2 separate regions of the Homo sapiens genome follow, and region 1 is linked to region 2. Evidence: fine-mapped expression QTL. A gene starts in region 2. The other region holds a variant in brackets. All regions are shown on one strand. Distances are from middle to middle.

The links. PIP is the estimated chance that this variant, and not a neighbour inherited with it, causes the effect.
Region 1: its variant is fine-mapped to the expression of LONP1 in whole blood (TOPMed, PIP 0.94).

The regions. Positions count from the first base shown.
Region 1 is chr19:5,684,297-5,694,485 of GRCh38, forward strand. It overlaps HSD11B1L (hydroxysteroid 11-beta dehydrogenase 1 like), which reads left to right. Exons shown (of 8, transcript NM_198706.3): 2 at 523-609; 3 at 693-823; 4 at 2,120-2,231; 5 at 2,604-2,695; 6 at 2,986-3,079; 7 at 3,207-3,372; 8 at 3,457-4,226. The coding sequence starts at 537. The coding sequence ends at 3,649. RPL36 (ribosomal protein L36) reads left to right here and starts at 5,999. Exons shown (of 4, transcript NM_033643.3): 1 at 5,999-6,031; 2 at 6,210-6,304; 3 at 7,023-7,157; 4 at 7,236-7,579. The coding sequence starts at 6,212. The coding sequence ends at 7,325. LONP1 (lon peptidase 1, mitochondrial) reads right to left here. Exons shown (of 18, transcript NM_004793.4): 15 at 10,091-10,189; 16 at 9,256-9,473; 17 at 9,002-9,166; 18 at 7,538-7,912. The coding sequence ends at 7,736. RefSeq lists silencers at 2,463-2,722, 2,793-2,942, 3,183-3,242, 7,061-7,110 and enhancers at 3,420-3,919, 5,671-5,720, 5,776-6,301, 6,302-6,827, 6,828-7,353 and 2 more. The variant C/T (reference allele first, on the strand shown) is at 6,187.
Region 2 is chr19:5,713,964-5,723,732 of GRCh38, forward strand. It overlaps LONP1 (lon peptidase 1, mitochondrial), which reads right to left and starts at 6,183. Exons shown (of 18, transcript NM_004793.4): 1 at 5,741-6,183; 2 at 220-308. The coding sequence starts at 6,169. It overlaps CATSPERD (catsper channel auxiliary subunit delta), which reads left to right and starts at 6,674. Exons shown (of 22, transcript NM_152784.4): 1 at 6,674-6,845. The coding sequence starts at 6,775. RefSeq lists enhancers at 3,798-4,314, 4,315-4,830, 5,864-6,380, 6,333-6,432 and silencers at 5,793-5,872, 6,003-6,052.

The sequences.
Region 1 (10,189 bases), 29 kb before region 2:
TGAGCCACCACATCCAGCTGAAGGAGGTCACTTTTGCACTGAGACTTGAAAGAAGTGAGAGAGCAAGCCATTGGGTTATATCCGGGAACAGCATTCTAGGCAGTAGGAACAGCCCACGAGAAGGCCCTGAGGCAGGATAGTGACTGGCTGGTTTCAAGGAACAGCGAAGGGTCTGTTTTAGTGGAGCGGAGTGAGCAAGGAGGACAGGTCCACACAGGGCGTTTGTAGCCACCAAGGAGTCTGGTTTTTATTCTAACTGGAACAGGAAGGATTTTCAGTCCAGGAGAGGCAAGGTGTGCAGATGGAGAGGGCTGAGAAGGGTGGAGGGGGAGGGTGCAGGTGCGGTGGTTCATGGAGCCGCGGTGGTTCATGGAGCCACCGTGGTGGCCTGGACAGGTGGTGGCTGTGGAGGTGGATAGGAAGGCGTGGATCCAAGGCGGTGGCATCACCAAACACCCACCAAACACGGGTGGCTGTGGGCCAGGCCTGTGCCGGCCACCTCTGTCCCCTGTCCCTCTGCAGGCCCACACAGGACCATGAAGGTGCTTCTCCTCACAGGGCTGGGGGCCCTGTTCTTCGCCTATTATTGGGATGACAACTTCGACCCAGGTGAGCACCTGGGGTTGAGGGAGGGAGAAACCGGGCCAGCTGTCCTGTCCTCCGCCCAGAGTGACCACCCCGGCTATGGCCAGCCAGCCTCCAGGGAGCGCGAGTGCTGCTGACAGGGGCCAACGCTGGTGTTGGTGAGGAGCTGGCCTATCACTACGCGCGTCTGGGCTCCCACCTGGTGCTCACTGCCCACACTGAGGCTCTCCTGCAGAAGGTGAGCCACCCCATGTCTAGATGAATGGTGGGGGTGCTCATGGGGGGTGGGAAGAGAGCCTGGGTTTAATCCCTGCAATGATCCAGGCTTCCCGTGTGACCTTGGGCAAGTCGCCTAACCTCTCTGAGCCTCTCAGTTTCCTCATTTGCAAAACGGGGACAATAAAACCACTTTCTGGCCAGGCACGGTGGCTCACGCTTGTAGTCAGCACTTTGGGAGGCCGAGGAAAGTGGATCACCTGAGGTCAGGAGTTCAAGACCAGCCTGGCCAACATGGCGAAACCTGGTCTCTACTAAGAAGACAAAAATTAGGCCAGGCATGGTGGCTCATGCCTGTAATCCTAGCACTTTGGGAGGCCAAGGCGGATGGATCACTTGAGGTCAGGAGTTCAAAACCAGCCTGGCCAACATGGTGAAACCCTGTCTCTACTAAAAATACAAAAAATAAAAATAAAATAAATAAATAAAAAATTAGCCGGCGTGGTGTCAGGCACCTGTAATCCCAGCTACTGGGGAGGCTGAGGCGGGAGAATTGCTGGAACCCGGGAGGTGGAGGTTGCAGTGAGCTGAGATCGCGCCACTGCACTCCAGCCTGGGTGACAGAGCGATACTCCATCTCAAAAAAAAGAAAAAAAAAAATTAGGGCATGGTGGCGCGAGCATGTAGTCCCAGCTACATGGGAGGCTGAGTCAGGAGAATCACTTGAACCCCGGAGGCAGAGGTTGCAGTGAGCCGAGATCGCACTACTGCACTCCAGCCTGGGCAACAAAGTGAGACTCTGTCTCAAACAAACAAACAAAAAAACCCACCTTCTCATGGGTTAGGATGTTGTGCCAATGCAGTGAGACGGTGACTAGAAGATGCAGTGTTTCTTAACAAATGAGAGTATTGAGTGTCCAGGCCTGTGCTGATAGCCAGGGTTCTTAAACTCGAAGGGAAGGATGGGCACTTCTTAGCAACAAGCAGTCCATTGCTACTTCAAGGAAGGGTATGGCTCTTGGGCACAAACCTTTCAATATTTCAAGAGAAGCTAGCAATCAGGAAATTGTAGATGAAATGTCCTGTTTTAGATGTTGGTGATTGACTAACCACCAAATTGGCCAGCATTCTGGCCCGCGGGCCTCCACTTTGCGCCCCTCAAGCAGTGGTAAATTTTTGGGAATGATGTTGAATGGGTCCCGAGGCTCAGAGTAGGGGGGGGTTTTCAGGCGGGGGCCTCCCTATGGCCAGCAGGTGCGGTGGAGGGGGAAGCGCTGCTGTAGAGGAGAGGCCCACGGGCAGCTCTGGCCCCCCCCAGGTGGTAGGGAACTGCCGGAAGCTGGGCGCCCCCAAGGTCTTCTACATCGCGGCGGACATGGCCTCCCCTGAGGCGCCCGAGAGCGTGGTGCAGTTTGCGCTGGACAAGCTGGGTGAGGGGCTGGGCCTGAAGCCTGGAGTCCGGGACCGTGGCCTAGGCCTTAGGGACAGGACCAGAATTGGGCTGTGGGTGTGGCCACAGTAACAGGTGTCTCAGGGCGGAGACAAATGGGGACTGGGGGCGTGGGCGGGGTGGAGTCTCATTGCGTCTGGGGGAAGAGCTCTGAACGGGGCCTCGTTGAATGGGAACCAAACCTTGCTAGATCCAGGGTGTAAGGCCAAGGCTGGGTGTCTTTGATCGTAGTGGGAGTTACCTGGGGCGGAGCTCGCTGGACCAGCGCTCTGGGTGGAGCTAAGCTCGGGGGCGGGGTTTGATCGTTTCCTTGGGGAGGGGCCTCCGGGGCTGACCGGCGTTTCTGGGCCAGGCGGGCTGGACTACCTCGTGCTGAACCACATCGGCGGCGCCCCGGCCGGCACGCGAGCCCGCAGCCCCCAGGCAACTCGCTGGCTCATGCAGGTGCTCCGCTCCTCCGCGGCCCCGGCCCGCCCCTCTATCTCAGGGACCGGTGGTCCGTTCCCTTCGCGGTCCGGGTTCTGCCTTCTCCAGGGAGGGCTCTCCACCCGTCCCGCCCCAGCCACGCCCCTCCTAGCCCAAGCCCCTGCTCCGGCCTTGACCCCGCCCTCGGACCCGCCTTCCGGGTTTCTGGCCCCGTCTCTGACCCGGCCCTGGCCCCGCCCTCTGGGTTTCTGGCCCCGCCCTGCCCCTGGGCTCCGCCTCTGCCGGTGACTCGCGAGTGCCGCCTGCAGGTAAACTTTGTGAGCTACGTGCAACTGACGTCGCGGGCGCTGCCCAGCCTGACGGACAGCAAGGGCTCCCTGGTGGTGGTGTCCTCGCTGCTCGGTGCGTGCACCCGGCCCCGGCTCTGCGGGACGGGGAGTGGGGAGCTCGATGCGGGTGAGCCTGGAGGGTCTGGGCAGGCTTCCCGGACGAGGGGGAGCCACTCAGCCGCTGCCGTCCGCGCCCCCAGGCCGCGTGCCCACGTCGTTCTCCACTCCCTACTCGGCGGCCAAGTTTGCGCTGGACGGCTTCTTCGGCTCCCTGCGGCGGGAGCTGGACGTGCAGGACGTGAACGTGGCCATCACCATGTGCGTCCTGGGCCTCCGAGATCGCGCCTCCGCCGCCGAGGCAGTCAGGTGAGGCCCGGACAAGCTGGGGGCTGGGCTGGGGGCCATGGCCCAGCCCCAGCCGCAGTCCCCACCGTGCCCTCCTGTCCCCAGGGGAGTCACGAGGGTCAAGGCGGCCCCGGGGCCCAAGGCAGCCCTGGCCGTGATCCGCGGCGGCGCCACGCGCGCGGCCGGCGTCTTCTACCCGTGGCGTTTCCGCCTGCTGTGCTTGCTCCGGCGCTGGCTACCGCGCCCGCGGGCCTGGTTTATCCGCCAGGAGCTCAACGTCACGGCCGCGGCAGCCTGAGCACCGGGGGGTGCCCCTCCAGTCCCAGACGGCAATGTTCCTCCCTCCAACTGTCCCTGGAGCCAGAACACTCACAGAGACACCCCTGAGAGGGTGGCCACAGCCCAAGATGAAGTCATCAAGACAGAAAAGCAAAACCGAGAAAAACGACGGGCACCTGGAACCAGTCACGGCTTGGGAGGTGCAGGTGCCCCGTGTTAGGCGCCTTTGTCGGGGACTTGCAAGGCCTCACCTGTTTGGCCATGATTGATGACGTGACTGCTTCCATTTTGCAGATGAGGAAACTAAGGCTCAGAGAGGCCACGCCACCCTTGAGCCACCCATGGACCCCTCTCCATCTCCTGCCTGCGCCTTTAAGTCCCTGATTTATTCTTTCCATTCATTCCATCTGGGAGGAACCCCCCCAACTCCTGCCAGCTTCCCCTAGCTGGGGTCTCTGGTACTCTTCACACCTGCAGGGGCGTCTACACTGTTCGTCTACCTGGTGGCAGGGTCTGAGCGGGAGGAGGAGGGAAAGAGTGTGTTCTGAGCTGGACCCAGCCTCTTGTTCGAGAATAAAAACTCTTCTTCTCTTGCATATCTGTTGTTCAAATTCCTTGGTAATTCCAATTTGCTAGCAGCCAGCGGGCAGCGGGAGGGGGTGTGTGTATCAGGGGCCTTGACTCTCAATCCCATTTCACAGGTGGGGAAATGGAGGCTGAGAGGGCCAGGAGCAGTGGCTCACGCCTATAATCCCAGCACTTTGAGAGGTCAAGGTGGGCAGATCACTTGAGGTCAGGAGTTTGAGACCAGCCTGGCCAACATGGTGAAACCCTGTCTTTATTTATTTATTTATTAGACGGAGTCTCACTCTATCGCCCAGGCTGGAGTGCAGTGGTGCGATCTAGGCTCACTGCAACCTCTGCCTCCGGGGTTCAAGCGATTCTTGTGCCTCAGCCTCCCAAATAGTTCAGATTACAGGTGTGGGTCACAACGCCTGACTTTTTGTATTTTTAGTAGAGACGGGGTTTTACCATGTCGGCCAGGCTGGTCTCGAACTCCTAGCCTTAGGTGATCCCCCTGTCTCGGCCTCTCAAAGTGCTGGGATTACAGGTGTCAGCCACTGCACCCGGCCACAAACAAATATTTTAATTAAAAAATTAGCCAGGCGTGGTGGCATGTGCCTGTGGTCCCAGCTAAGGAGGCTAAGGCAGGAGGATCACTTGAGCCCTGGAAGTCAAGGCTACAATAAGCTATGATTACAGCAGTGCACTCTAGCCTGGGCGACAGAGCAAGACCCTGTCTGGAAAAAACATGAAAGCGCTAACCCTAATTAGAGCAGCCCTAAATTGAGACTCTCTTCTTGTATATTAGTAGCATTAAAGGAGAAAAACTGGAAACTTGTGTGTTTCTGCCACCCGATTCAGTTATTTAGCGTCCCGTCCCTACACCACCTAAATTACATCAGATGTCCGCAAGGGGCACTATTACACGTTGCTGTATTCAGACCTAGTCTAGAGCTTGACCAATTGATAACAAAACCAATACCTTTTTTTTTAAATGGAGTTTCGCTCTGTCGCCCAGGCTGGAGTGCAGTGGTGCGATCTCGGCTCACTGCAACCTCTGCCTCTTGGGCTCAAGCAATTCTCCTGCCTCAGCCTCCTGCGTAGCTGGGATTACAGGAGCATGCCACCACGCCTGGCTATTTATTTATTTATTTATTTATTTATTTATTTATTGAGACGGAGTCTTGCTCTGTCGCCCAGGCTGGAGTGCAGTGGCACGATCTCGGCTCACTGCAAGCTCTGCCTCCTGGGTTCACGCCATTCTCCTGCCTCGGCCTCCCGAGTAGCTGGGACTACAGGTGCCCACCACCACGCCTGGCTAATTTTTTGTATTTTTAGTAGAGACGGGGTTTCACCGTATTAGGCTGGTCTCGAGCTCCTGACCTCGTGATCCACATGCCTCGACCTCCCAAAGTGCTGAGATTACAGGCGTGAGCCACCGCGCCCGGCCTAATGGGCGTTTTAACAGTTCATACAGTTTGGTATTATTATTCCCGCTCTACAAGTGAAGAAATTCTGAGAGGTGATGTCGTCGATGCAGGGTCGGCCCGAAATAGGCGGAGTTGGGATTCGAACTCATTTCACAGGCAGAGGGAGGAGAGCAGCCATAGCCACCTCCACTGGTTCCGACTCCAGCTCCCGGGCTCGCAGGAGTAAACGCGCATGCTCAGGGAGCTCGGTCGCGCATGCTCAGCGCAACGGCGGGGAAGACTCCAGCCGCCAGGGGGAGCGCGTGCCGTTCTTGCCTCTCTGGCCTGCGCCTCCTGAGCCGAGTAGATATCCCGGAGTTCCGCGCGGCGCCAGCCCTTCCGCCACGGCCGTCTCTGGAGAGCAGCAGGTAAGTGGTTTCCCGCACTGCCGGTATCCGCCGCCATCCGGACTCCCGGGTCCTCTGTGCAGGTTGGAGGATGGTTGGTTGTGGCGAGCGAGGCTGAAGGAGCCGGGACGCGGGGCTCTGGGCCTCGGGAACTGAGCCGGTACTCACCTCCGCCC[C/T]TTCTCCCCGTCGCTGTCCGCAGCCATGGCCCTACGCTACCCTATGGCCGTGGGCCTCAACAAGGGCCACAAAGTGACCAAGAACGTGAGCAAGCCCAGGCACAGCCGACGCCGCGGGGTGAGTGCGGGTGCCGCGCGGAGGTTGTCGGGGGTTTCTTGGAGGGCGGAGGGCATGGCTTGGGCAAAGGCTCTCGACCTGAAAGAACGCGCGTTCGGGCGCAGAACTAAGGGGGGCTTGAATGGAAGAGATGGGGTGGGGGAGTGGGACTTCCTGCCTGGTGCTCGAAGGCGGGCACCCATCTGGGTTTTTCCCAACCGTGCAATCCACGCTGGGGCAGAGGGAGCACCTTGAGAGCGGCGCGGGGCAGCGGGTTTGGGGTTCTGACGCAGGAGTAGGAGTTCGCTCATGGAGCTGGCCCGAGGTTGCGGTGTGTGAGGTTGAGGGATTTCAGGTGTGTCAGTGTATTGGGCGCCTTTATTAAGCGGGCAGCGGGTTTGGGGTTCTGACGCAGGAGTAAGGAGTTCGCTCATGGAGCTGGCCCGAGGTTGCGGTGTGTGAGGTTGAGGGATTTCAGGTGTGTCAGTGTATTGGGCGCCTTTATTCAGCAGGCAGCCCAGACTCCAGGTGCGTCCTGCCAGTGTTGCGGAGACTGGGACTTAGGGAGGATGGGAGCTGCTCCGGGCGCGGCGAAAAGCGCTAGGCGTTAATACCTTGGTTCTCACAGCTACCCACAGAGGGGAGGAAGTAGCCAGGGAAATCGCGGCAGCGCGAGAGAAGCTGCTTAACTAGAATGCAGGGATCCCCCTACCCTGACGGCCGCCCCTTTCCCCCCTAGCGTCTGACCAAACACACCAAGTTCGTGCGGGACATGATTCGGGAGGTGTGTGGCTTTGCCCCGTACGAGCGGCGCGCCATGGAGTTACTGAAGGTCTCCAAGGACAAACGGGCCCTCAAATTTATCAAGAAAAGGGTAGGTGGGCGCTGCCGGCCGAGGGGCGGGGTGGGATGGGAGTCAGGGCCGGGCTGACGGCGGCCTCGTCCCTGGCAGGTGGGGACGCACATCCGCGCCAAGAGGAAGCGGGAGGAGCTGAGCAACGTACTGGCCGCCATGAGGAAAGCTGCTGCCAAGAAAGACTGAGCCCCTCCCCTGCCCTCTCCCTGAAATAAAGAACAGCTTGACAGAAGCCCTGGCTCTCCTGCTGTCCGTGGGTGGGTGTGGGTGTGTCGGGGGCCCGCAGTCCCCTGTCTGGTGCCCGCTCTGAGCCACACCCTCTCCGGGTGCTGCCTGGTCGTGAATCAAAAGCCGTGGCCCGCCCACCCTTCCCGGGGCAGCAGGTGAGGAAGCCGCCGTACTGCAAATGACTTTAATCATTAAATAGCTTCTATGCCACACTCTGATTAAGCCGACTGAGGTCCCTGGGATCTGGGTCACTGGACCGAGCTGCTCGCTCGGTGGCTCCACTGCCAGGTCCGGGCGCGCTCCCCACAGCGCTCAGTTCTGGCCCAGACAGGGCCTGACATCCGCCGCCTGCAGTCCCGGGGTGGCCGTCACCGTTCCACGGCCAGCGCCTCTGCCTGCTCGTCCGGGAAGGCGATGTCGAAGATCTCCCGGTAGTGTTCCACGAAGTGCACCTCCAGGCCCTCGGTGATGAAGGCTGCCAGGTCGTAGAAGTCCTTCTTGTTCTCGGCTGGCAGGACGATGCACGTCACCCCTGCGCGCTTGGCCTGGGGGCAGAGTCAGGGTCAGCCCTGCCTGGGCCTGTGGGAGGGCAGCAGGTGTGCTAACCTCCAGGAACGAAAGGGCTTCCTGGGGACCGGCGATACACAGTGATGCCGGGTTCTAAGCAGTAAGTCCCAAAACCCACCAGGGTCCCCGTCTCCCACGGGGAAACAGGCTCAAGGCAAAACCACTGGCCTTGGCTCCAACAGCCTGAGAGCAGGAGCCAGGGCCTCCCCACCCCCTTATCTAGGAAGTCTGGCCGTGCGGTGGGAGCAGTCTCAGGGCTCTGGATGAGCCACACACCCACGGCCTCACATCCAGAGGTCAGGCAGTGTCTGGGGCCTGAACAGGGTTCCTGTGAGCATCTGCATCTCTGCCCCCAGGCCCTGCGTCACCCCCCTCACCTCCGGAGGCTACACATATCTGGAGTAGATGCCAGGCACAGCCCCACCACAGCCCCTTGAAAGGACAGCAGTTCCCACTGTCACCGCACACTGACTCCATGGACAGTGAGCCTCCCAATTTGCCTCCACCATTTTATCATCTAGGAAGTCTGTGCCTGGTGTCCAATTCAAGGTGGTCACAGCCACTTGACCATGCCTCCCTCGTGGTGGCATCTCCTGACTGACTGCACCAGGCTTCCTAGACACATGGCAAGTGTGGTCCAGTCTGGGGACAGGCAGGGATGGGAGGGAAGAGTGGGGACAGTGGCGCTCCAACCTGCTCAGCACCCTTGGAAGAGGCCAGCCCCTGGCCAGGGGCTCCAAACACCCCCGCCACCAGTAATCCTAAACGTCGTCCCCATCTCTAGCCTCTCCCTTGGCGCTGGGCTGCCTGGGAAGAGAAGCAGGAGCCACCCCCCCAATCCTACTGGGGAAGCCAGTGGAGGCTCAGAATGTTCTCCACAAGACTTGCTGTGGAGAAGGCAGCTAGGGCGGTGAGCTTAAGGCCAGCTCCAGGCCAGAGAGACCTGCTTCCAAAGCCCAGGGCTTCCCTCTCCTTGGCCCAGGCAGAGGTTGCATGGCGGGGACTGGGCCTGTCCCGTGGTGGTGTGGGCCCTGCCAGTGCTGTGGGGTGGGTACAGGGACACTCACCGCAATGGTCTTCTCCTTGATGCCACCAACAGGCAGGATCTTGCCCGTGAGGGAGACTTCGCCAGTCATGGCCAGATTCTGCCGGACAGGCCTGCCCATGGCCAGGGACAGCAGGGCCGTGACGATGGTGCAGCCTGCGCTTGGGCCGTCCTTGGGGGTGGCGCCCTGTGGAGGCATGTGGGGATAGTGGGTGAGCAGGTGGCCAGCAGCCCAGGGACTGGGCGGGAGCAGGTGGGAGCGGATGGCGCGGTCACCTCGGGCACATGCAGGTGGATGTGTGAGGTCACCAGGTAGTCATTGGCGGGGGCGTGCTGCATGAGGAAGGCTCTGGCGAAGGTGTAGGCTATGCGGGCGCTCTCCTTCATCACCTCCCCCAGCTGGCCTGTCACCTCCAGGCTGCCATCCTTGTCACCCTTGGCATCCTTGTCCTGTGGCCGTCTCAGGGATGTCTCCACAAACAGCGTGGAGCCTCCTGAAACAGGTGTGGAGCTGTGAACACGGGAGGCCTCGGAGCCCAGGCCGGTGCTCACTCCACCCCTCGGGGCCACTCTGACCGCTCCTGCCCCAGTTTAGCATCTTGGTGCCCCTGGGCAGGGGTTGGTGTCCCATCGTGAGCCAACGCTGGCCTCTACGTTTGCTGCGTTGCGGGTTCCTGGCTCTGTACGCCCCACAGGGCAGCCCCCAGCAGCTGCCAGCCACAGAGGACACGCCCAGGGCTACAAGGCCCAGCTGCCGCTGCCCTGCAGACAGACACAAGCCCTTCTCCAGCCCCTCCCGCACCATCCCCTTTGCCCTCTCGCCTCCTTTGTGCGTGGTGGCCCCAAGGCCCATCTGGATGAGCTTGTCCTTACCTGTAAGCCTATCAAAGTGGCACCCAAATCCATAAGGCCCATGGTGTGCTGCCACCCCCATGTGTCACAGCCTTCCCCTCCCTCAGCCCAGACCCCCTGGGCTCCCAGCACACCACCCCCCGCCAGAGGCCGTTCAGAGCCACCTGAGGCCCACTGCACAGGTGTACAAGGTGGGACCTGCTTGTTCTCGGGTAGAAATGGGAATGGCTTTGGGGTCTTCTCCCGCCACCACGCTCACCCATTGCGGTCCAGGCCAGCCCCATGACCACGCCGGGCGGTGTCACGTCATACATGCGCTCCACGGTGAACACGGGCTTCCCCACGAAGTCCTGCAGGT
Region 2 (9,769 bases):
TTCCCCCGTATCTTAACAATGCATGAAGTTTAGTACTACAAGCTGAGTTCTCAGCCCAGGCTGAAAAGGTAGCCTGCGTGGCTTCTGGCCTTTATTCTGGAGGTCTTCCCTGGTTTCCTCGGGGTCAGGGGTCAAAGGTGCAAAGTACAGAGTAGGACTTGTGGTGAGCTGGACTCTAGGGCACCGTCAACAAGGGAATGAAGGAAAAATCACACTTACCTGTCATCTCTCTTTAGAAAGACGCCGACATAAGGCTGGGCGAGACGAACTTTCCTTCTCAGCAGCTCAACCAACTTCTTATTTTTAACCTAGCATGACAATGACCCCAAAGTGAAATGCAGAGTAGATTTTTTTTTTGAGACAGAGTCTCATTCTGTTGCCCTGGCTGGAATGTAATGGCGTGATCTCAGCTCACTGCAACCTCCACCCCCACTGAGTTCAAGGGATTCTCCTGCCTCAGCCTCCTGAGTAGCTGGGATTACAGGCATGCACCACCACACCTGGCTAATTTTTTTATTTTTAGTAGAGATGGGGTTTCACCATATTGGCCAGGTTGGTCTCGAACTCCTGACCTCAGGTGATCCACCCACCTCAGCCTCCCAAAATGCCGGGATTATAGGCGTGAGCCACCAAACGCAGCACAGGGTAGCTTTTCTTTTTTTTTTTTTTTTCTGAGACGGAGTCTCGCTCTGTCACCCAGGCTGGAGTGCAGTGGCATGATCTCAGCTCACTGCAACCTCCGCCTCCCGGGATCAAGCAATTCTCTGCCTCAGCCTCCTGAGTAGCTGGGATTACAGGCGCCCGCCACCAGGTCCGGCTGATTGTTTTGTATTTTTAGTAGAGATGGGGTTTCACCATCTTGGCCAGGATGGTCTTTAACTCCTGACCTCGTGATCCACCCACCTCAGCCTCCCAAAGTGCTGGGATTATAGGCGTAAACTACCACGCCCGGCCTCCCAGGGTAGCTTTTGTAGCTGACATTTTTTGACAGCAGAGCCGCTCTAACGCTGTGTAGATTATTCTCTGGGGACATGCTGATCCGCATCCTGGATACTAATCAACATGGTTTGGGAACGCCTAAACAAAAAAAAAAAAAAAAAAAAAAAAGTGCTGGAGGCCAGGAGGCTGTGGTGGTGAATACAGTGAGCAGAACTGACCAGCTGGATTCTTCTTAGCGGTTTCCCCACTCCCAAAGGAAATTCAAAGTAGACGAATGGTCAGAACCCAGAAATTGATTTAACATCCAGCTTCAAAGGGGATGTCCAGGGCAAACTGTCTTGGTTTGAAAATCAAAACCATTCTGCTTTTATTAATGTCAGAATAAACATAAGTAATTTAAATGTGACCCACTCCAGAGATTGATAACTTCCTTTTTTTTTTTTTTTTAATAAAGTTTCAGGCTGGGCGCGGTGGCTCACGCCTGTAATCCCAGCACTTTGGGAGGCCGAGGCGGGCAGATCACAAGGTCAGGAGATCGAGACCATCCTGGCTAACACGGTGAAACCCCGTCTCTACTAAAAATACAAAAATTAGCCGGGCGTGGTGGCGGGCACCTGTAGTCCCAGCTACTCGGGAGGCTGAGGCAGGAGAATGGCGTGAACCCGGGAGGCGGAGCATGCAGTGAGCCAAGATCACGCCACTGCACTCCAGCCTGGGCGACAGAGTGAGACTCTGTCTCATAAAAAAAAAAAAAAAAAAAAAAAAAAAAAAAAAAAAGAAAGTTTCACTCTGCCACCCAGGCTGGAGTGCACTGGTGCAATCTCGGCTCACTGCAACCTCCACCTCCCAGGTTCAAGCGATTCTTCCAACTCATCCTACCACATAGCTGGGGTTACAAGCACACGCCACTGCACTCGCTAATTTTTGTATTATTAGTAGAGACGGAGTTTCGCCATGAGCCACCATGCCTGGTTCCTCCAATTTTCATTGACAGTTACTTCCTTATCACATCATATGCTGTTCATTAATGATCAAGACCCCCAGGATCACAGCACATTCTCAACGGCAGGTTCAGGGCTAATGATGTCTTCTAAGAAGCATTTGAAGGCGCAAGGAGCTCACCTGATTTCTTTCAAGCCTTTGTTAATTCACTGGACAGACCCTGATTAAAGGTAATGGCCTGGCTAGCCTGGTAATGGTAGCTCATGCCTGTAATCCCAGCACTTTGCGGGGCTGAGGTGGGAGGATCGCTTGAGCCCAGGAGTTTGAGACCAGCCTGGGTAACACAGTGAGACCCCATCTCTATTTTCTTTTTGAAGTTTTTAATTCTTTATTATATAATAAAGTTAAAATATACATATATATATATATATATATATATATATATATATATATATAGTAATGGCCCTCAAACTTTTGCAGGCACCAGGATGACCTGAAGGACTTTAAGCAGCTCACTGCTGGGCCCCACCCTTGGAGTTTTTGATTCAGTTCTAGGGTGGGTCCAAAAATCTGCATTTCAAACAAAAGAGCATCACATGATGCCGATGCTGCTGGTCCACAACCATCCTTTGAGAGCCAGTGTTTTGACTCACTCCCTAACACAGGCTCTTAACTTGTGGTCCAGAAATTCCTGACACTATAGATACATAATTTTTTTTTTTTCTGTTCCCAGAAAAAAAAAAGTCAGTAACATCTGACAGGAGGGTGTGTGACCCACTGTTATAAGTAAAATGTTTGTTTAGAGACAGAACGCTTGTACCTCTGTACTGTAAGGAAAAATTAGCATTTGGACAAAAAGTTTTCTTAGCAAGACAATTTTACTTTCTGAAGAAAGGGTGCTCCTCGCAGATGGAACAATGGCGAGAGCAGAGCACACCTGAACAAAGGAGGGAAGCAATTTTTTTTTAAGACAGAGTCTTGCTCTGTCGCCCAGGCTAGAGCGCAGTGGAGCGATCTCAGCTCACTGCAAGCTCCGCCTCCTGGGTTCACACCATTCTCCTGCCTCAGCCTCCCGAGTAGCTGGGACTACGGGCGCCCACCACCACTCCAGGCTAATTTTTTTGTATTTTTAGTAGAGACGGGGTTTCACCTTGTTAGCCAGTATGGTCTCGATCTCCTGACCTCGTGATCCGCCCACCTCAGCCTCCCAAAGTGCTGGGATTGCAGGCGTGAGCCACCGCGCCCAGCCCACGAAGTTAGTTTTTAAAAGAAACTAATACTTCTAACACTTATGATTTATTCTTTAATACCCACCAAAAATTAAGAGCCATTGTTCCTTACTCAAAAGTTGCTAATAGGAGAGAAGCTTCTAGAGCAAGTTGGCCAGACAAGTCAAGTACAAACTGAAGAGTAAATCAAGCTTTGCTAACAATTTCAGAAACATTTATTGGGTCCCAAAGAAGTTGCCTCCCAATTTCCCCTCTGCCAACAGCTGATAGCTGCATCCTTGGCATCTGCCTCCTGGCCTTGGCAGGATCCATTTTTATGATTTACAATGCATCATCAACCAGAAATACAATGAGAACCACCTGCCAGTCTCCCAAATACTATCTGCAGCCACTCATTTAACTCTCCTGGCTAGCTCCACGTGGGCCGTCTGAACTCTCTTAGAAGAATCATCTCTCTGCTCAGGCACCGGGAGCAAGGGGCATCTGTCGCTCTGCAGAACGGAGGGGACCAGGCCTGATGAACACCATCCTGGGCCCAGAAACCTGGGAGGGTAAAGAGAACTGCCAGGGGTGAAGTCAAGGATGGGAAAAAGGCCTCCGGGGCAGAGTCCTGAAATGTCAGAAGTACACCAAAGAGGAAACAGCATCACGTTATTGCTGAGGCAGGGCCTCATTCTGTTGCCCAGGCTGCAGTGCAGTGGTGACACCATGGCTCACTGCAGCCTTGATCTCCCAGTTTCAAGTGATCCTCCTGCCTCAGCCTTCCAAGTAGCTGGGAAGACAGGTGCATGCCACTGTGCCCGGCTTTTCTTTCTTTCTTTTTTTTTTTTTTTTTGTAGAGACAGGGTCTATGTTGACCATACTGGTTTCAAATTATGCTCCTGCCTCAGCCTCCCAAAGTGCTGGGATTAAACATGTGAGACACCGTGCCCAGCCCACATGGCCTCATTTAAATCCCACAACAACTCTAATAAGACACTAATATGTCCAGGTCACAGATGAGAAGAGGGAAGCCAAAGGAATAACTTGCTGAAGGTTATGGAGCTAGGATAGGACCCCACAAGGTCTTGCTCTGGGGGCCTGCATCAGTAACCAGTACTCAACATCAAGGAAAGGCCTTGGGGCCGGGCGCAGTGACTCGCACCTGCAATCCCAGCACTTTGGGAGGCTGAGGCGGGTGAATCACTTGAGGTCAGGAGTTCGAGACGAGCGTGGGCAACATGGTGAAACCCTGTCTCTTCTAAAAATAGAAAAATTAGCCAGCCACGGTGGCGGGCGCCTGTAATCCCAGCTACTCAGGGGGCTGAGGCAGGAGAATCACTTGAACCCGGGAGGCAGAGGTTGCAGTGAGCTGAAATCGCGCCACTGCACTTTAGCCTAGATGACAGAGTGCAACTTGGTCTCAAAAAAAAAAAAAAAAAAATCTTGGAGCAGCGTTGGAGAAGCTCCCTCTGTCCCCTCTCTACTGGCTGCTGCCCCTCTGAAATGGCCTTTCCCTTCCCAACAGATCCTTGAGATTTGTTTAGAAGAGTCTGGAGAGTGAGCGCAGAGGCTGACTCACTGCGTGACCTTGCTCTGCCAGTTAGGAGATAACCTTCCCATAGATGCCACTTTCCACATCAGTAGTTTTTTTTTTTAAGGGAAGGGGAGCTGGGGGAGAAGGCTTTTGGGGCCTTCCTACTGTAAAAGCTCAAGTTCCTTACACTCACTGCTTTCTCTCTATTACATCATCCTGCTCCCTCCCCACCCCCAAGGCTCTTAGTCTGAAATGATCTAATTTCTACCACCGGAATGACTTGTTCTCTACAGTATTCTCAGAACTTGCTACGTGGTAGGAGGTCAAGAACACACTGAATAACCCACCTCTTCCCACCCTCCTAAGCCTCCTGTCCCATCCATGCTCTACTATTTCTCGTAATTATTGCCTTCTAATACAATATCGTTACTAAACATCTTTATTGCCTGTCTCATCCTGCCAAAATGTAAGCTCCAAGGCAGATTTATTTTTTAAGAGACAGGGTCTCGCCATGTTGACCAGGCTGGACTCCAGGTTTCCAACAATCCTTCCACCTCAGCCGCCAGAGTAGCTGGGAGTACAGCGCGCGCCACCATGCCCAGCTTCAAAGGCAGAAATTTTTGTCTGTTTTGTTCACTGCCATATCCCCAGAACCTAGAACACTCTCTGGCAAATAATAAGCAATCAAGAAGTATTTGTCTAAGAAAGGAATGAATTCTGATCCCAGTGAGGCTCGTAACCAGACGGCAGAGCGCCTGGGGCGAGGAGGTATTACAAAACTCGTGCCAAGTAAGGAGAAAACTAACAGCGCCGTAACACTACTCAGGTCCCTCCCGGCCCCGGATTTCTATGACCGGCGTTCTAAAGTGGATAATCCTAGGCTCATCGGGTTCAACTCCTCTCATCTAACGGATCCTAAGAAATCCGAAAGGGAGAGGACTTTGGCTCAAGGTTCCCAAGCTAGTGGTGAGCAGACAAGGATTCGAACTGCACCCTTCGAGAAACTTCATGTCTGAAAAAGTTGCGAAACACAAGGGCGCTCAAGTGATCCCACGGTTCAGCCCGCTGCTTGCACAGGTGGGAAACCTGAGGCCGAGGCGGGGACTCCCATTACCTCGATAATCTTGATAAAGCGCGGGAACACCGGGTTGCGGGTGATGGCGATGAGCGGCAGGTGCGGAAACACATCGGGGATCGTCATGGGCGTGAGCGCCGTTATGACCGGGCCTTCCCCGGCGCCCGCGCTGCCCCCCGCGCCGCCGGCTCCTTCCTCCGCGCCGCCCTCGGAGGCGTCCTCGCCCCCCGAGAATGCGCCTCCGCCGCGGCTGCTCGCTTCCCAAAACCCCCGCCATTGGCCCCCAATTGCCGGGCCTCGGCCCCACAGTGCCCAAGGAGGAGAGGCGTCGCAGGTCCGCTGGCCTCGGAGCAACCACGCTCCTGCTGCAGTGGGAACCCGCCCCCCGGCGGCGGCCAGCATCGGCCGCCGCAGCACCCAGCACCGCGCCGCTCCCCACAGTCGCACGTAGCCAGTGCTCGCCGCCATAGCCCGGCCATACTGGCGGCTCACACAACTCGCGTCATTTCCGCTCGCCGCGAAACGCACGTGACGCCCGGCGCGTGCCTCGGTACCCGATGGGCGCGTGGCTCGAAACAGCCGCTTCAGGGAGCTGGGCCTACGCGGAGAAGAGGGGGCGGAGTTCGAGCATCGGATCGTCTCCGCCTCTTCCGGTCTCCCACTTTATGCGCTGAAGGCCTTTTCCGGTCACGTGGAAGGCTGTGAGCAGGCGCCAGCGCCCGTACAAAACACTGGTAGTGTTGCAAACGCAACGTTTAGGAACTCATGAGCAGCCTGTGCACATGCTTAGGCGCGCGGACAACATGCGCATGCTCAGACTCTAGACTGGCCACGGGTGGCCGGGTGCGCATACTCAGGCTCTGAGCGCACTTTGGGGTGCGCGGATTCGGGCTTCCCGGGATTCGTCTGCGCATGCTCAAGATTCAGGCGGAGCGCCGGGCTGCAGTGCGCGGAGGCCCGCTCCCGGGACTCATTGATGCGCATGCGCAGGGCTTCAGCCTGCACGTACTCGGATTGTGCAGCGACTCCCCGTGGCGGTTGAGGGGCAGTGGTGGCGGCGGAAGCCCAAGTCGATGCTGATGTTGATGCTGGTGGCGGCTGTGACCATGTGGCTCCGACCGCTGGTCACAGCTCAGCTCTGTCGGTGGGGCTGCCAGGACTCCTGGGGCTGGGGTGCTGCCGGGGGTCGGGAGGGTGCTGGTTCATCTTGGAGCCGAGGCCTGCTCCCCAACCTCACTGAGGCTCCCCTTTTACTCTTTTTAGGAATCGAACTTGACGCCTCGCTCACCCTACTCCACCCCATCCTCCCAGCCCGATATTAAGCTCTCCTACCTCTTTTTTTTTTTTTTTTTGAGACGGAGTCTCGCTCTGTCGCCCAGGCTGCAGTGCAGTGGCGCGATCTCGGCTCACTGCAAGCTCCGCCTCCCGGATTCACGCCATTCTCCTGCCTCAGCCTCCTGAGTAGCTGGGACTACAGGCGCCTGCCACCACGCCCGGCTAATTTTTTTTTGTATTTTTAGTAAAGACGGGGGTTTCACCGTATTAGCCAGGATGGTCCCGATCTCCTGACCTCGTGACCCGCCTGCCTCGGCCTCCCAAAGTGCTGGGATTACAGGCGTGAGCCACCACGCCGGGCCTAGCCCTCCCACTTCTTTTTCTTTTTGGAGCCGGAGTTTTTGCTCTGTTTCCCAGGGTGGAGTGCAGTGGCGCGATCTCTGCTCACTGCAACCCCCGCCTCCCAAAGTGCTGGGATTGCAGGCGTGAGCCACCGCGCCCAGCCTTACCCAGCACATTTTGAAATTTCAGTAAATGTTAGGTTAGTGCATACTCCAACCTGCCATGGGGACCAGTTGCTGAAACTCCGTTCCTGCCCTCAGGGAACTCCCATCTGGACTAAACTGTCACATTCAGTAGGGACCTGTGAGCTGTATTCTTAGGGTGTATGGCCTCATTTGATGTTTACAGGAAGATTCATAATGATTCCTTAACCTTATTTTATTTTATTTATTATTATTTTTTGTACAGATGGGGTCTCACTGGCTGGGTGCAGTGGCTCACGCCTGTAATCCCAACACTTTGAGAGGTAGAGGTGGGCAGATCACTCACTTGAGGTCAAGAGTTCCAGACCAGCCTGGCCAACATGATGAAACCTCGTCTCTACTAAAAATACAAAAATTAGCCAGGCTTGGTGGCAGGTGCCTGTAATCCCAGCTACTTGGGAGGCTGAGGCAGAAAAATCGCTTGAATTCAGGAGGTGGAGGTTGCAGTGAGCTGAGATCGCACTCCAGCCTGGGTGACAAAGGGAGACTCTGTCTCAAAGGAAAAAAAAAAAAAAAGAGATGGGGTCTCACTGTTTTGCCCAGGCTGGTCTTGAACTCCTAGGCTCCAGTGATCCTCCTGCCTCAGCCTCCCAAAGTGTTGGGATTACAGGCATGAGCCACCCATGCCCAGCCATACCCTTATTTTATTTTTTTGAGATGGAGTCTTGTTCTCGTCGCCCAGGCTGGAGTACAATGTCACGGTCTCGGCTCACTGCAACCTCCGCCTCCCAAGTTCAAGCAATTCTCCTGCCTCAGCCTCCAGAGTAGTTGGGATTATGGGCGCCTGCCACCACGTGCAGCTAATTTTTTGTGTTTTTAGTAGAGACAGGGTTCCACCATGTTGCCCAGGTTGGTCTCGAACTCCTGACCTCGTGATTCACTTGCCTCGGCCTCCCAACGTGCTGGGCTTACAGGCGTGTGCCACCGCGCCCGGCCAACACCCTTATTTTATAGATACGAAAGCATACTTAGGAAAGTTAAAGACACACTTGCCTAACAACACATACCTAGTAAGTGGGAGAAACATTTTCCAGTGAAATTTACTAATAGGATTTGTCTCGAGTTCTGAAAATGTGGGTTATATCCAGTTCTCTCATTTCCCCACACAGGCTCTCAAAGAATGGTCCCTGGACCAGCAGCATCAAGATCACCTGGAATTTATTATAATTGGTTAGAAATGCAGTTCCCTGGACCTACTGAGTCGGGGACTTGGCAGTGGGACCCAGCAAACGGTGGTTTATCAAGACCCCCCCCCCCGCAACCCCGGTGATTCTGATGCATATTCAAGATTGAGCACCTCTGCTGTAAACTATACCATCCTTCCAGTCACCACACACTCCCTTAAGGAGCCCCGAATACCTTGTTGCAGGACTTCATAATTTTCCTCAGCTGGGGTCTGTGAAGGAGCCTTTAGAAATTCTTGGCCGGGCGCGGGGGCTCACGCCTGTAATCCCAGCACTTTGGGAGGTGGAGGCGGGCGGATCACGAGGTCAGGAGATCGAGACCATCCTGGCTAACACGGTGAAACCTCGTCTCTACCAAAAATACAAAAAATTAGTCGGTGTGGTGGCGGGCGCTTGTAGTCCCAGCTACTCGGGAGGCTGAGGCAGGAGAATGGCGTGAACCCGGGAGGTGGAGCTTGCAGTGAGCTGAGATCGCGCCACTGCACTCCAGCCTGGGCGACGGAGCGAGATTCTGTCTCAAAAAAAAAAAAAAGAAAAAGAAAAAGAAAAAAGAAATTTTCAGAAATCATTTCTACATTTTGTGTGTACTTATGTCTGTTTCTGGGAGAGGAGTTTCATACAAATTTTATTTTTTGACGGAGGCTTGCTCTGTCGCCCAGGCTGGAGTGCAGTGTGGCAAGAGCTCAACTCACTGCAACCTCTGCCTCCAAGGTTCAAGCGATTCTAGTGCCTCAGCCCTCAGCCTCCTGAGTATCTGGGATAACAGGCGCCCGCCACCCTGCCCAGCTAATTTTTTTTTTTTTTTTTTTTTTTTGAGACGGAGTCTCGCTCTGTTGCCCAGGCTGGAGTGCAATGGCGCCATCTCGGCTCACTGCAAGCTCTGCCTTCTGGGTTCACACCATTCTCCTGCCTCAGCCTCCCGAGTAGCTGGGACTACAGGTGCCGCAACCACGCCCGGCTAATTTTTTTGTGTTTTTAGTAGAGACGGGGTTTCACCGTGTTAGCCAGGATGGTCTCGATCTCCTGACTTCGTGATCCACCCGCCTCGGCCTCCTAAAGTGCTG